Homo sapiens: one gene and its partner. The protein of the gene in region 2 purifies or fractionates together with the protein of the main gene of each other region. This does not show direct contact. Each region holds a gene or a part of one and is shown on either strand. Other genes may lie near its edges.

Evidence for each region. The genes of interacting proteins can lie anywhere in the genome.
Region 1: the proteins of DNAJB11 (region 2) and SDF2 purify together in Homo sapiens (affinity purification with mass spectrometry; 5 studies listed by BioGRID and IntAct, with this or other methods). This does not show direct contact.

What each region holds. Positions count from the first base shown.
Region 1 is NC_000017.11:28,646,957-28,653,329, reverse strand, and holds the end of SDF2 (stromal cell-derived factor 2 precursor), read left to right. Parts: intron 1-1,787; coding exon of another isoform or gene 1,788-1,844; intron 1,845-4,053; coding exon 4,054-4,341; 3' UTR 4,342-4,984; downstream 4,985-6,373.
Region 2 is NC_000003.12:186,572,404-186,581,715, reverse strand, and holds part of DNAJB11 (dnaJ homolog subfamily B member 11 isoform 1 precursor), read right to left. Parts: intron 5,877-9,312; coding exon 5,779-5,876; intron 4,049-5,778; coding exon 3,916-4,048; intron 3,732-3,915; exon of another isoform or gene 3,649-3,731; intron 346-3,648; coding exon 203-345; intron 1-202. UniProt on the Homo sapiens protein: As a co-chaperone for HSPA5 it is required for proper folding, trafficking or degradation of proteins.

The DNA of each region.
Region 1 (6,373 bases), on a different chromosome or scaffold from region 2:
GGACTTATAAAGGGTTTGGGAGGAAGATCACAGAGGTAAAGTGCCATTTGTATCCCATCATATCAGGGGTACATACTATCTTTATGATTTATGACTGTTGATGTGGACCTTGATTACCTGGCTGAAGTAGTGTTTGTTCGTTAGGTTTCTCCTGTAAAGTTATTCTTTTCATTTTCCCCCTTTCCATGCACTTTTTGGAAGAAAGTCACTATGTGCATTTCACTCTTACAGACTGGAGAGTTATACTCTGTCTACATTAGGGTGGAATATCTACATATTTTATTTGGGATTTTTCCATATTGGGGATTTGTCTCTTTTCCCCAATTTATTTATTTATTCAGTTATTTACATTAGTATAAACTTATGGATAGTTTATACTTCGTTATAATCTAATGCTACTATATTTTGTTGCTCAAATTGTTCCAACTTTGGCCATTGGGAATTCTTTCAGCTGGCTTTGTGTCCATTGGCAGTATCCCATTGTGTTTTTGTGTATATGTGCCTGCACTTTAAAGCACTTCTTTCCTTTCTGGCACCAAAAGATGCTCCAGGCTCATCTTGTTTATTTCTTGCTCCAGTACTAGAATCAGCTGTTTCTCCAAGGAGCTCTGCTTCCTTTTATTGGAGAATGATATTAAAACCAAGTTCTAGGCCTTATGTAAGCTTGTTGCTACTGGAGTGTTTCTTTTAGGCCCTCTCACTTGACAGAATAAATAACTGTAAGCCAGGCGCAGTGGCTCACACCTATAATCCCGGCACTTTGTGAGGCAGAGGTGGGTGGATCACAAGGTCAGGAGTTCGAGACCAGCCTGGCTAACATGGTGAAACCCCGTATCTACTAAAGTACAAAAATTAGCTGGGCATGGTGGCGGGAGCCTGTGATCCCAGCTACTTGGGAGGCCGAGGTAGGAGAATCGTTTGAACCTGGGAGGCGGAGGTTGCAGTGAGCCGAGATTGCACCATTGCATTCCAGCCTGGGTGACAGGGCGAGACTCTGTCTCAAAAAAAAATTAAAAAAATAAAGAATTGTTACCTGTGTGTGCTTACTCGTGTATATATTACATATCTATAAATTTTTATTTGCATAGCCATCTGTATCTACATATATTAAGTTAAATGAGCTTTCTTTTTCTTTTTCTTTTTTTTTTAAGATGGGTTCTTGCTGTGTTATTCAGGCTGGAGTGCAGTGGCTACTCACAGGTGTGATGATAGTGCACTAGAGCCTCGAACTCCTTGGCTCAAGCAGTCCTCTTGCGTCAGCCTTCCAAGTAGCTGGGGATACAGGCATGCCCCACTGTGCCTGGCTAGTGTTCTTATTGATGTCTTTAGCTGTAATCCATTACCACATAGATCGTCCTAGCCTCCTCCCTGTGCTAATTTGTAAATTCCCACTCCAACAGTAAGATACCTTGTTCCTACCATCTGCCATCCATGTATTGAACTTCAGTTCAGTTCCAGTATACAAATATAGCAGTATCAGAATTACATACTGGTACCCTCCTGGGAACAATTTTATCAAGTAGAGTGTACACACACACACACACACACACTTCTGAAATAATCAGTAATTTTTTAATTGCCATCGTATAGAAACTGAATATTTGGCCTTAAGGAAGATGGGATTTAGATGAGGAGTAGAATATAGAGAACTTGCTTTCTCTCTCACTGCCTTATTAGAAAGAAAGAAAAGAATGTAGAAAACTTGCTATGTTTTGCTCAGTTAATATTTGCTATCTCATTTAATTCTCACAGTTGCTCTGTAAGGTGATATTGTGATCATTTTATAGAGGAGAAAACAAAGGCTCAAAGGATTTACAGAAGAAGGGATCAAGTTGAGATTCAAGGTCAGCCTGACTCCCAGAGTCCATTCCCTTTTGAACTTGTCATCAGGTCATTTAAAATCTAGTTAAGAGAATGAAGCAGTAATATTTAAAGTCAAATAACAAGAGATATAAAGTATTTTAAGGGCAGAATGTGGTGGCTCATGCCTGTACTCCCAGCACTTTACTACGCTGAGGTAGGTGGATCACTTGAGGCTGGGAGTTTGAGACCAGCCTGGTCAACATGGTGAAACCCCCATCTCTATTAAAAAATACCAAAATTAGCTGGGTGTGGTAGCACATGCCTGTAATCCCAGCTATTCTGGAGGCTGAGGCATGAGAACCCAAGAGGTGGAGGTTGCAGAGAGCCGAGATTGTGCCATTGCACTCCAGCCTGGGCGACAGAGCGAGATGCTGTCTCAAAAAAGTAAAGTATTTTAAAGCCAGCACGGTGGCTCACACCTGTAATCCCAGCACCCTAAAAGACCAAGTGGGGAGAATCGTTTAAGTCCAGGAGTTAGAGGCCAGCCAAGGCAACACAGTTGCCTACCAAAAAACTTTTAATTACCTGGGTGTGGTGGTATATGCCTGTTGTCTTAGCTACTCAGGAGGTGAGGCCATAAGACCACTTGAGGCACTGCACTCCAGCCTGGGCAACAGAGCAAGATACCCTAACTGTTTTTTTTTTTTTTTTTTTTTTTTTTTTGAGACAAAGTCTCACTCTTGTCATCCAGGCTGGAGTCCAGTGGTGCAATCTCGGCTCACTGCAACCTTCGGCTCACGGCAACCTCCGCCTCCCAGGTTCAAGCGATTCTCCTGCTTCAGCCTCCCGAATAGCTGGGATTACAGGCGCCTGCCACCACACCTGGCTAATTTTTGTATTTTTAGTAGAGATGGGGTTTTACCATGTTGGCCAGGCTGGTCTTGAACTCCTGACCTCAGGCGATCTGCCCGCCTCGCCCTCCCAAATTACTGGGATTACAGGCATGAGCTACCGTACCTGGCCACAATCCCAACTCTTAAAAAGAAAAAAAAAAGAAATTCTGTTTTAACACTGTAATAGAAAATATAAGGCAATTATAGTATTAATTGCAAAATAAGTGTTTGGACCATAATCTTTTTTTTTTCCTTTCTTTTTGATGCCATGACTCAGATAAGAACCATGGACCATAATCTTATAGCAATGAATTTTTTTCCTCCTATGTCCTTTATGTCTTTCGTCTTTTTCCATGGTTCATGGTTTAAACAACACTGGAGTGGCCGGGCACGGTGGCTCATGCCTGTAATCCCAGCACTTTGGGAGGCTGAGGCGGGAGGATCACCTGAGGTTGGGAATTCGAAACCAGCCTGACCAACATGGAGAAACCCTGTCTCTACTAAAAATACAAAATTAGCCGGGCATGGTGGCACATGCCTGTAATCCCAGCTACTAGGGAGGCTGAGGCAGGAAAATCACTTGAACCTGGGAGGCGGAGGTTGTGGTGAGCCGAGATTGCGCCATTGCACTCCAGCCTGGGCAACAAGAGCGATACTCTGTCTCAAAATAAATAAATAAATAAATAAATAAAATAACAACACTGGAAAGCAGCTGAATTTTTTTTTTTTTTTTGAGATGGGGTCTTGCTCTGTAATCCAAGCTGGAGTGCAGTGGTATGATCACAGCTCATTGCAGCCTTGATCCCCTGGACTTAGGTGATAGCTGTAGTAGCTGGGTACCATAGGCATGTGCCACCATGCCCAGCTAATTTCTTTTTTTTTTTTCTTTTTTTTTTTTTGAGACAGAGTTTTGCTCTTGTTGCCCAGGCTGGAGTGCAATGGTGTGATCTCGGCTCACCGCAACCTCCGCCTCCCGGGTTCAAGCGATTCTCCTGCCTCAGCCTCCCGAGTAGCTGGGATTACAGGCATGTGCCACCACACCCAGCTAATTTTGTATTTTTAGTAGAGACAGGGTTTCTCCATGTCGGTCAGGCTGGTCTTGAACTCCTGACCTCAGCTAATTTCTTTTGTATTTTTTTTAGGGATAGCGTTTCACCATGTTGCCCAGGCTGGTCTCAAACTCTTGGGCTCAAGTGATCTGCCCTGCTCAGCTTCCCAAAGTGGTAGGATTACAGGCATAAGCCTGGCCCCTCTGATTTTTTACTTCAAGGTGGCCTTCTTTTTCTTCCCATTGCCTCCCACCCCTTTTCAAGCCCTTGTCAGCCATGCTGATGTTACTACCTTCTGTATTTTCTAGGAAGTGAGTGCTTTTGGTGAGGAAGGTGAAGGTGATTATCTGGATGACTGGACAGTGCTCTGTAATGGACCCTACTGGGTGAGAGATGGTGAGGTGCGGTTCAAACACTCTTCCACTGAGGTACTGCTGTCTGTCACAGGAGAACAATATGGTCGACCTATCAGTGGGCAAAAAGAGGTGCATGGCATGGCCCAGCCAAGTCAGAACAACTACTGGAAAGCCATGGAAGGCATCTTCATGAAGCCCAGTGAGTTGTTGAAGGCAGAAGCCCACCATGCAGAGCTGTGAATCTAGAGGCTCTGAGCCACTGTTAACGCACAATGTTCACAGACATCTGTTGCTGCCTCACCTTGGGATCCCTGCCACAAGTTCCTTGGGCAGTGGCCATGTCACCATTGAGATGAAGATATACAACAGAAAATAGTGGCTGTGTTTGGAAGCTTCAGCCCTGCACATTTGAACTAGTCACTCTCCCAGACTTGCGTGGGTCAGTTCTTTCTGAGTAGAGGACTTGCTGGTAAAGGGGCAGATGCTTTTTATTAGTACTGATAAAACAAACTGAGGGAAACATCCCTCTTAGCTGGGAAACTTTTACTCTTCAGGAGCTTGGCATCATGGACTGTTAATGTATGTGATTTTCCCCCTATTTTCTCTCTCCAAAATGATAAAAACAATAATTTTATTATGAGTCACTGTGTTGTTATTTATTAGGTGTGCTATTTCATTAGCTGCTTAATCCTTTGAGTCCTAAGACTCTTTGGAGACGCTATGAAGCTCCAATGTGGGCCCTTTTAAGAGCTTTTCTTGCATACAAACCTTTTCTCCCTCTACTTTGACTTCTCTCCAGGCATCTCATCTTTAATAGATCTTTGACTAATTATAGCTAAAAACTCTCAGAGAATACAGCATAATAAATAGCCAGTGAAATGTTTGCTTTGTATCTGTTACTGCAGATGAGAAAAAGGTGTAGGGGTAGAAAGAACGAACCAGTATTTATTCACTGCTAAATACTAGGTACCATATTATAGATCTTTTTTTTTATTTATTGTTTTTTAGACAGAGTCTCGGTCTGTCGCCCAGGCTGGAGTGCAGTGGCGCGATCTCGGCTCACTGCAAGTTCCACCTCCTGGGTTCACAACCATCCTCCTGCCTCAGCCTCCCAAGTAGCCGGTGCTACAGGCACCCGCCACCACGCCAGGGTAATTTTTTTGTATTTTTAGTAGAGACAGGGTTTCACTGTATTAACTAGGATGGTCTCGATCTCCTGACCTCATGATCCGCCCGCCTCAGCCTCCCAAAGTGCTGAGATTACAGGCGTGAGCCACCGCACCCGGCCTATAGATCTTACCTCATTTAATCTTCACAGAATTCATATAGGGTAATACTGCATTTTTATCAGTGCAGCAGTTGAGTAACTGCCTGAATTCTTTTTTTTTTTTTTTTTTGAGACAAGTTCTTTGCTCTGTCACCTAGGTGGGAGGGGCACAATCATGGCTTATTACAGCCTTGACCTCCTGGGCTCAAGTTGATCCTCCTGTGTCAGTTTTTGATTTATCGTAGAGATGAGGTCTCACTATGTTACCCAGGCTGGTCTGGAACTCCTGGGCTCAAGTGATCCTTATGCTGTGTCTTCCCAAAGTGCTGGGGATTACAGGAGTGAGCCACCATGCCTGGCCTACTGCCTGAATTCTTTTTTTTTTTTTTTTAAGATGGAGTCTCACTCTGTCGCCCAGACTGGAGTGCAGTGGTGCAATCTCGGCTCACTGCAACCTCCGCCTCCCAGGTTCAAGTGATTCCCCTGCCTCAGCCTCCTGAGTAGCTGGGACTACAGGCACCCGCCACCACACCTGACTAATTTTTGTATTTTTAGTAGAGATGGGGTTTCACCATATTGGCCAGGCTGGTCTTGAACTCCTGACCTTTTGTGATCCGCCCACCTTGGCCTCCCAAAGTGCTGGGAAAACAGGTGTGAGCCACCGTGCCCGGCCTGAATTCTTAAAACTAATAAATCATTTTGGAATAGGAATCCAGCTGTTTCTGACTCAGGTTTTTTTAAGTGCACTACGATTGTGTTTAGCTTTTGGAAAACAAATCCTGTTTTTTGGACAAACGTAGATATATCTCTCTAAAAAGGTGGATAGAAAACTACTTTTGTCCTCTGCCTACCTGATTTCCTCCTTTCCTGTGTCAATTGCAGAAAATTTGCTCCTGTAGCTTCCAATCATGGTATTGGTGAACGGAGATGGCTGCCATCTGCTGGAATTTCAGTGACTAGCAGGCTTTTTTTATTTTTAGAAACTTCCGGGTTTTGTTCTTTTTT
Region 2 (9,312 bases):
ACTGCTTGTTAGTTCAGAAACATAAAAGGAGATATTTACAAATACTTCAGAAAAAAATGTACATTGTTTTGCTCTATCCTTTTGCAGAACATGGCAGTGGGGAGGGGACAGAGAAAGATCTAGTATGGACCATTAGTGTTTGACTAGATGAACGAAATTAACAAGTGTTTCTTGGTAGAACAAAGAAGGTGCTTTCACTTACTTGACATTAGGGCATTCGTCGCAGACCACCTCCTGGGTCATTTGGAAGCGCCCAGGGCCCAGCTGGGTGGTCCGCATCTCTTGCCGACAATTGCACTTCCGTTTGCCAGGAGCCTGCCTTGCCACAGGTTTGTTTCTAACTACCTAGGAAGTGCATAAACAACATCAGCTTCTCTCTTGTGTAAAACAGCCTTTCCTTTCCTCAATTGATCAAGGCTCTGCACATATGCCTGGACTGAAACTTCCCCTTCTCTGGCAATCTATCCCTCAGAGATCTAAAGCTGACAAAACTCTTTGAAGAGTACAAATCAGCCCCCAAACAGGAATGAAGCAAACACATACTTAAATGACTCAAATTCTAAAGCTGGAGAAGTAGAGACGGGAGTAAGAAACAAGAGAACCGAAAAATAAAGTGTATGATATCAGCATTTCTAAGCCACAACTAAATGCTACTGAGTTAAAGTACTTCATGTAATGATTATCTTTTAGGAAATCCGAGCTGTGTAAAGCATAACCCCTGAGGAACAATCACTACCTTCAAAACCTGGTATGTGGCTACTATCCAATCCTCTGGTTAACCTACTGAAAATGTCTCCTTATTTCAGGAAATGCAATCCAGGACTATTTTCTGGAGCTATCTCCATTCAGATACTTTAACATGTAGGAAGAGAAACAATGACCATCTCTTTGTAGTTGACTGCAATCAAACATTCTGATCCCTCTAAGAATGTAAAATTGATATATATGCAGAAATGTATTCCTAGTTTTGCCTGTTTAAATAGTCAAACATCTAATCACAAGGTATGTGCTCACGCAGCAGAATGACGAATGCTTGGAGAAAAATCCTTTAAAGCCTACCAACATATGAAAGGCCCAGGTCAACAGAGTAAATTATAGCAACAATAACAGTAATCAGAGCAAACATTTTATAGCACTTACTACATGCCAAGCCATGTGCCAAACACTTTTACATATTCATTTAACCCTCACAACTCTATGAGACAGGTACTGTTATTATCCCCATTTTACAGGTGAGGTAACAGAAGTATAGAAAGGTTAAGTAACATGACCAAGGCCACATGACTAATACATGGCAGAGCCAGGATTCTAAACTAGGCAGTCTAGCTGCAAAGTCCATGCTCCTTAACCATTGTGCTATCCTATTTCTCAAGGTATTTTTTTTTCTTTAAAAAATAATTTACATACAGAAGGAGCAGGATTGAAAACAAGGAAAAAAAGAATTTAGCATGGGGTTACTGAACCAGCAAAGCCATTTACAGCCTTTACAATAGTTGGATTAAAAAAGAGTTTGTTCGGGAACACACTAACAGCAAAAAGTGATGTCTACTGTGTATTAGTGACAACTGCAGAACAGGCTTGGAAGGGAACATGGGCGCTAATTAGGCTCACCTCTTTCCTCCCATCTAAACAACCTCACTGGTTTATGAATATTTTTAATGCCCTTTTCTCCTGCAGCCTCAACAGTATTACAAGTCAGTTGCATCTTCTGTGATTGTCTATATCTCTTCTTTCAATTATTCAGAGAAGCAGCTACAACTAAGAAGAATACGCTTCTTGTCAAGATGGCACATATGCACAGGCTACCGGCTGTCTCCTCCAGTATCCTGGAAAAACTACAAGAAAACATGGATTCCAGGAAACAGTAACTACAGCACAGAATATATGAGAAAATCCCACAGATAGAGGGCTGTTTTGAACTGTTTCCCATGACTGCAGAAAACAAAAGACTCCAGACAGCAAACAAAACAAAAAACACCCCAAGACACCAAACAAAACACAGTTAAAACCAGTGGGCCAGGGCTCAGCCCATGATGCTCTGCAGGGAAAGGTAGTTGCTGGTACCTGTAAGGGAATATCAGCTCAAAGGCCAAGACAGCTAGATACCTGAGAAGGTCTATCATCTGCCCCACAAAAGACAACAAACTGAATAACACATATATTTTAAGCAACTGTACTTTGCTTAAAAAAAGATTAGACAGACCAGGAACTTAAAACAAGCATGATAATACTTAAGGAGGGAAGGCATTAGTAAAATGATATAGAGTAAGAAATAATGCAAGAATCAAGTAGAAATATTATGCATAAAAATATGAGTTGAAATTAAAACACAGCAGATGGGTTATTATTAGAATGGATATAGCTGAAGACTGAAGTAGTAAGCTGGGAGATCAAAATGAGGTACCTCCCAGAAGGAAGCAGTGAAGGATAAAGAAAATTTATTTTTTGTATTTAAAAGAAAGTTAAGAGCAGACAGAAGTAGGAGTGATAGAATTGTAAAAAATAATGAGACATATTTTCCAGAATTTAAAAAAGATGAATAACCTCATATTAAAAGATCCCAGAGTTTTAGCAGAAAATATAGGTGAACAGCTTTCTTATTTTATTTTAAAATTTTTTTCCAGAGATGAGTTTCAGTTATGTTGTCCAGGCTAGAGTGCAGTGGCTATTCACAGATGCAATCACAGGACATGATAGCCTCAAACTCCTGGCCTCAAGCAATCCTCCTACCTCAGCCTCCTGAGTAGCTGAGATTACAAGTGTGCTCCACTGCACATGGCTGCTTTCTTATTTTAGAACAAAAACGAATTTCTTTAAAAAGACACAAAAACTAACCATTAAAGACTGATAGATTTAATTACATTAATTAGTTCTGTTTGCTGAAAATTGAAATAAATCTTAAACATAATGAAAAGACAAGTTACAAACAGATAGCCTATATCTGCATTACATACAGCCAACAAAGAATTAGCAGCAAGAGTGAAGTACTCTTAGAAATCAATAAGCAAGAGGCAAAAGAAAGAACAGGCATTTCACAAGAGAGGAAACAAATATGGCCAATAAACACAGGAAGAGATGCTGATCCTAATTGGTAATTTAAAAAATGTAAAACAAGACCATAATGAGATATTTTATACCCATTTGATGAGCAAAAATTAAGAAGTCTAATAATTCCAAGTATTAGTGAGGCAGTGAATCTATAGGATCTCATAAATTGCATGTAGAAGCATCAGTACAATCAATTTCAAAAGCAATACAGTATTAACTTGTAAAAATGAACATTGGTTCATATTACCCAGCAATTCTACTCTCAAGCATATCCACCCAAGAGATATTCTTGTTCATCTGAACCTGGAAATATGGATTAAAATGTTCATAAAAGCGCTGTTTGGAATTGAATAAAACTGGAAGAAACAAAAATGCCTATTAATAAATTATGGTCACAATATAGCAATAAGCAACAAGGGTGAATCCTAGTAACATAATAGTGAGTGAAAATAACCAGTCCCAGAAAATAATGAATAAAATACCATTTCTAAAAAATCAAAAACAATATAATAAACAATATATTATTCAGGTATTCATATATACATGATAAAGTAAGAATGGCAAAAGAACAATAAAGACATAACTCAATACAGTAGTTACCTTTGAAGGGAGGCAGGGTAATGGAACAGGGAAGTAGCATGTAGGTAGATTAAGTCATGGTAATGTTTTACTTAGTTCTTAAGCTGGGTGATAAAACAATGACATCAGTGTATCATGAACCAAGCATTATAATTAATTCAATTTTGTGCATTTGATCACTCTCTCTTACCCTCAAAAAGACAGAGAAGGTACATATAAACCTCTTATTTTTAGTCAAAAGTGCAAGTTCTGGGAGTCAATATGAACAGCTATATTGTTTGAACTTACTTCCACAAAATTTCCTGCATATACTTCTTCCAAAGTGACTTCTAGATCTACAATAATATCACTTCCTCTTGGAATATTTCTGTCTTGCTGACGAGGGGTTCCTCCAAACATGAAACCAAAATCCCCAAAGAAGCTAAAGATAAGTGCAAAATCATCAGGAAAAAAAAAAAAATCAAGACTCTATGTTTCACAATTAACTCATTTTCTTTACGTTGATAAACTATTGTTTCTATCAATGCATTGTGCAAAACTACAAGGTATTTTTTAATACAATGGAGTCAACTATCATACATAATTTTAAATTTATATACTATCAACCATGTTGTAACTATACGGTCCCTTACTACAAAAAAATCCACTTTTTAACAAAATATAGCCCATACATATAGTACAGTACATACACACACAGTATGCCAATGAATTCAATGTTGGACCCAACCAATGAAATAATAATCTTTCAATATTGGGAAAAATCTGAATATGGTGGACTTATTGAGAAAGAGTATAGTATACATAAACTTGTGTAATGCTAAATGTAATGGTTAATTTAAGAAATTTTTATCGGTAATTTTAACATATGTAGTGTTCTCTTTACATGCTTTTTAGAAGCTAACTTGTTGAAAGAAGCTACTGCTCTACACAAAAATCTTGAGTATGTAATTAAATAAGCTAAAAAAGCATCAGCCTTAGTAAAATCCTAGTGCTTAAGGAGAAGGAAGTTCTAGCCTCTATAAGACCCAAACTAATTTTTGTAAGTAACAAGAGTAACTTGAGATTAACAAAAAAGGTGACCTTCAATCCTACAGGTGGTTTAATCTAATGTTAATTTTTGGTGTTATTAAGAAGCCTTGTATATTAGCATAGCGAAGATGATAACTATATAACTCCCTCTCCCACCAACCAACTCAGGTGAATGAATTCCCTGAATCTTAAATAAAGGCAAGGGGAAAGAACAGGGTGGGGGCTGGGGAAGCTGTTTCTCTTTCTGGTATTCCCTAGGGATCACTTCAGCCAGCCAAATTGATCCTGGCGGGGGGAAAAGATGTCCTAATCATGTTACTCACACATCTTTACAGACCCTAAAAATCTACTCCCCCACCCCAGGCCCCTCAACCAAGCACTAAATGGTGGTAACTACTATATGCAACAGTGATTCTTACTTCTTTTGGGGAAGGGTTCACAGAACCCTTTGAGAATCTGAAGAAAACAATGAACTCTCCCCATAAAAATGCAGATTCGAACATCTTTTTGTTTATAATTTCAGACCTGAAACCCCAGATTAAAGTCTCTTAGTATATGTAATCATCAGGGAATGTGGAAATTCAAATGCTCAATAAAGAGAGGTTCAAAGAGTGAGGAAGAAAGTGTTTATTATTCCAACCACCCAGCACTCCCAGAAAGCAAGAGATAAAGGTCCTCTACCCTAATTCCTTCCCCTAATGCTGGTTATTATAATCACCCTCACTTGTTGATAGCACGAAAGAGAGGCAGCTCTGGGTATGGGAGCAGGAATTTTTCTATCTCTGCTAACAATAATTTTGCTCATTAAGTGGTTTGCAGATTGCAAGGTAGCAAGTAGGCAAGGATGAACTGATTTCCAACACATGTCCCCGTGAATTGTCTGCACTGATTTAACTGATATGGTTGGCTAGATGGAATGTCCTTTCAGTGCCATCAGTCTTTCCTGAAGCTTTGTGAAAATAGAAGACTATCTTCCCACAGGGAGGACAATAATTGATCTTTGGATCAGCTAAATTGTACTGTTCATCAAAAGTTTCTGAACTAGGGAATGAGAATAATTCTTTAATCGCTAAGTGACCCTCTCTCAGACACTAACACTTTGCAGATGGGTAAATTACTCACTGTGAAAAAATGTCTCCATGGGAGCTCTGATGACCATCTTTTAATCCTTCTTCACCATAAGTATCGTACTGTTTCCGTTTCTCACTATCTGACAGAACCTGGGGATAAAAGCCAGTGGAGGAAAAGATCATGAGTTGGTAATATCCAGTTAAGGCACAGTCATATTTATGTTTGTTTTTACTTTGACAGTGGGTCTAAAATTTTAATAGAATGCAGTTTCCATTATGTACTGTATTAAGGCATATTTACAAAGTTATTTTCTCTAAGACTAAATTCTTTGATGCACTGTTCATTCCACATTGCTCCATTCATGTTTTTAATTTAAAGTTCTCAAAACTCGTGTAGTCACTAAAAAATAATACCTGAGATTAGCAATGCAGCTGTGAAGGTCAGGGTGGTGACAGGAAAGAGTTAAGACGGATTCCTCAGGTTTACTTCCCATGCAGTTTGACTTTGGTGCTTATGCTGTTAACCACTATACTGCCTTCAGAACAACTTGGCCCCACAGGTCTATAACACCCCCTACCCAAAACACACACACACAGACACACACACACACACACACACACGCGCGCGCGCGCGCATGTATTAGGAGATTGTCAAGTCAAGGAAATCAAATGACAGGCCCTCCAGAGAGGCCTACACTGATATCTTTTCATCCTCCTTTTTTCATTTTTTGGTATATGCAGAAATCCATTTGTGGAAGAATTTTGCCTGCCATATATATATATGTTTAAGTTTGTAATGTCCTGAGTTTGAAATGCAGAAAGAGTAGTAAGTAAAAATACTCTATGAAGGTTATTCAAGGTCAATTTCATTGCTTGAAATAATTCTTGAAGTTTTAAGTTTCAGAGAACTACATACACAATCATGACTATATGCTTTCTCTCTGTATATTAAAGAATGTAACAACAAAATAAGCTTCCATCCTTTTCAAAATTTGCCTTCAACATGCAAAAAAAAACTTTCTCTTTTATTTAGAGCAATCTGATATATATGCACATATATACTTGTGAAAATTAAATGGCTTTAAAATCTTCCTTTGATATTTATAAACTCCTACTTAGACAAGAGTCTGAAGGAGAGAGTTATTTCAAAACCACACTCATGGTGGCCCAGAAAAAGAGAGGTTCAAAGTAGACGGGGCTTGTTGACTTAAAAGAAAGGCATATTCACACAGGACACATTTTTGGCTTAGGGCCCAAATGAGGTGTAAGGAGTCATGGCAAAAATGTATTAACATTTAAGATATCCTTGAAAGGATAAATAGAAATTGAGTATACAAGAGAGTGAACATTCTTAAAAGCAAAGGCAAATGGGTTATTCCAGAAGTGACCACAGTACTTGATTACAGCCACTATGAAAGAAAAAGGGAGAGGAAAGCATGTTTTCACAAGTATCTTTAGAAAATAGGTACTTTGGGGAAGCAGAAATGGGCACAATTAACTTGAAAAAAAAAAAAACCCTTATTATTAACTGGATCTCCAATATTTTCACTTTTAGTCTACTTCTCTGATCTGATCTTCACAAATAAATGAACCCTGCATTTGAGACTATAAAAAACACCATTTCAAAACCCCCAAAGACTAGTTTTAAGTCAGTTTCTTTTTAGACATCAGAGGCTTCTGTAATAACCCCCTAAAAACTACTCTTGAAGTCATTATCATTTACTTCCTCCTCACTTTTCTTCCATCAAGGAATGCAATTTTATTCTATGGTCTTGGAAACTATTTTAAAAGAAAAAAGGTTTTTAGTTGATTGGCCAACCAATACACAGATTCTCAAGTAATTAAAATGCCAGCAGTGATCCTAGCTCTGTAGAGAAAACAAATTTGTATTCACAAAAGATTCTTCATAACTGTACTCGGATTCTAATTTGTGAACACTAATTTACCTAAGACTAAAGGCAATCAAGCTTGAATGATAAAAAGAAAACAGAAATTTGAACTAGTGGCTAAAAGGATTGTTATAGTTAAATAAGCCACGATTTCATGACTGACCTTTGTATAGCCTGCCTAGGTCATTGATAAAGAACGTGAAGATTCTTTAGAGAGCATGGTAAATTCAGCTTCCCTAGAAAATGTTTTTGAGTATTAGGTTCCTAGCAAACAAGGGGACTATTCATGGAAAATACAGTGCAAAATATAGAATGCATATTATCAACAAGAAACAAAATATTACATATAATTTAGGATGGGCCATTAACCTTCCCAAGTTTATTGATGTGCCTCAGGTTAAGAATTTCTGTCCCTTGGCCAGGCACGGTGGCTCATGCCTGTAATCCCAGCACTTTGGGAAGCCGAGGCGGGTGGATCATGAGGTCAGGAGATCGAGACCATCCTGGGTAACACAGTGAAACCCTGTCTCTACTAAAAATACAAAAAATTAGCTGGGCATGGTGGTGCACAGCTGTAGTCCCAGCTACTCAGGAGGCTGAGGCAGGAGAATGGCGTAAAACCCAGGAGGCGGAGCTTGCAGTGAGCCGAGATCGTGCCACTCTACTCCAGCTTGGCAGACAGAGCGAGACTCTGTCTCAAAAAAAAATAAAAAAGAATTTCTGCCCCATAGGATCCCTGAAGGTGTTGAAAGATGAAAGGACCCCAACAGCTCTTGGGTTCACCTGGGTATAACTCACTGTTTCAATTCCATTGCTTCTTTAATCTAGAGATCTTGGGATTCCTTCCTTTCAAGGTTTGTGTCTTCCTAAAATATTTTTCAATTTGTTTTTAGCCTTCTCAATATACAAGAATTTAAACTTAAATTCAGGAGTTTTAGCTCTATGACTTTTAGTTCAATTAATTTTTTTCTGTGTCCATTTAGAAAATGAGAATAAAAATATGCCTAGCTCTAATATATTTCCTGGTGTCCTAGTGAAGATTAAATGAGATGATACACATGAGAGTGTTTTGATCCCCAGATTAGAGGTTGCAAAATCAAATTAAAACTGTGCTCTGTTTGATTTATGTAAAAAAGAAATTTAACTGAATTAGTTACCAACACTTTTACAAGCAGAACTCATATAAAAAATCTAGATTTTCAACTTTTCTTGAAAAATTAAATCATCCAGGAACATACTGTTTGCATTTGTATGACAAAAACTGGCTGGGGTTGAGTAACAGCTGCTCCCTTGAAATGGGGCCAGAAGGCTTCAGTTTGTCAAAGTCCTCAACAATCCTTATTGCTTCCCAATATGGAGGCAGAATATCTGCTGCCATGTTTTAACTTATACCTGCCCTGCATGTTATTTGTCTAGTTCATATGAACATGCAGGTTTGCAACTCTCATGAAGGCTTTCTTTTTATTTTTGGTTCTAGCTCCCAAACTGATTGAACGACAGACCAATCAGTTGATCTACTTATTAATCTATAATAAGTTCAAGACTAGCCTGGCCAACAGGGTGAAACCCTGTCTCTACTAAAAATACAAAAATTAGCCAGGTGTGGTGGCATGCACCTGTAATCCCAGCTACTTGGGAGGCTGAGGCGGGAGAACTGCTTGAACCCAGGAGGTGGACGTTGCAGTGAGCGGAGATTG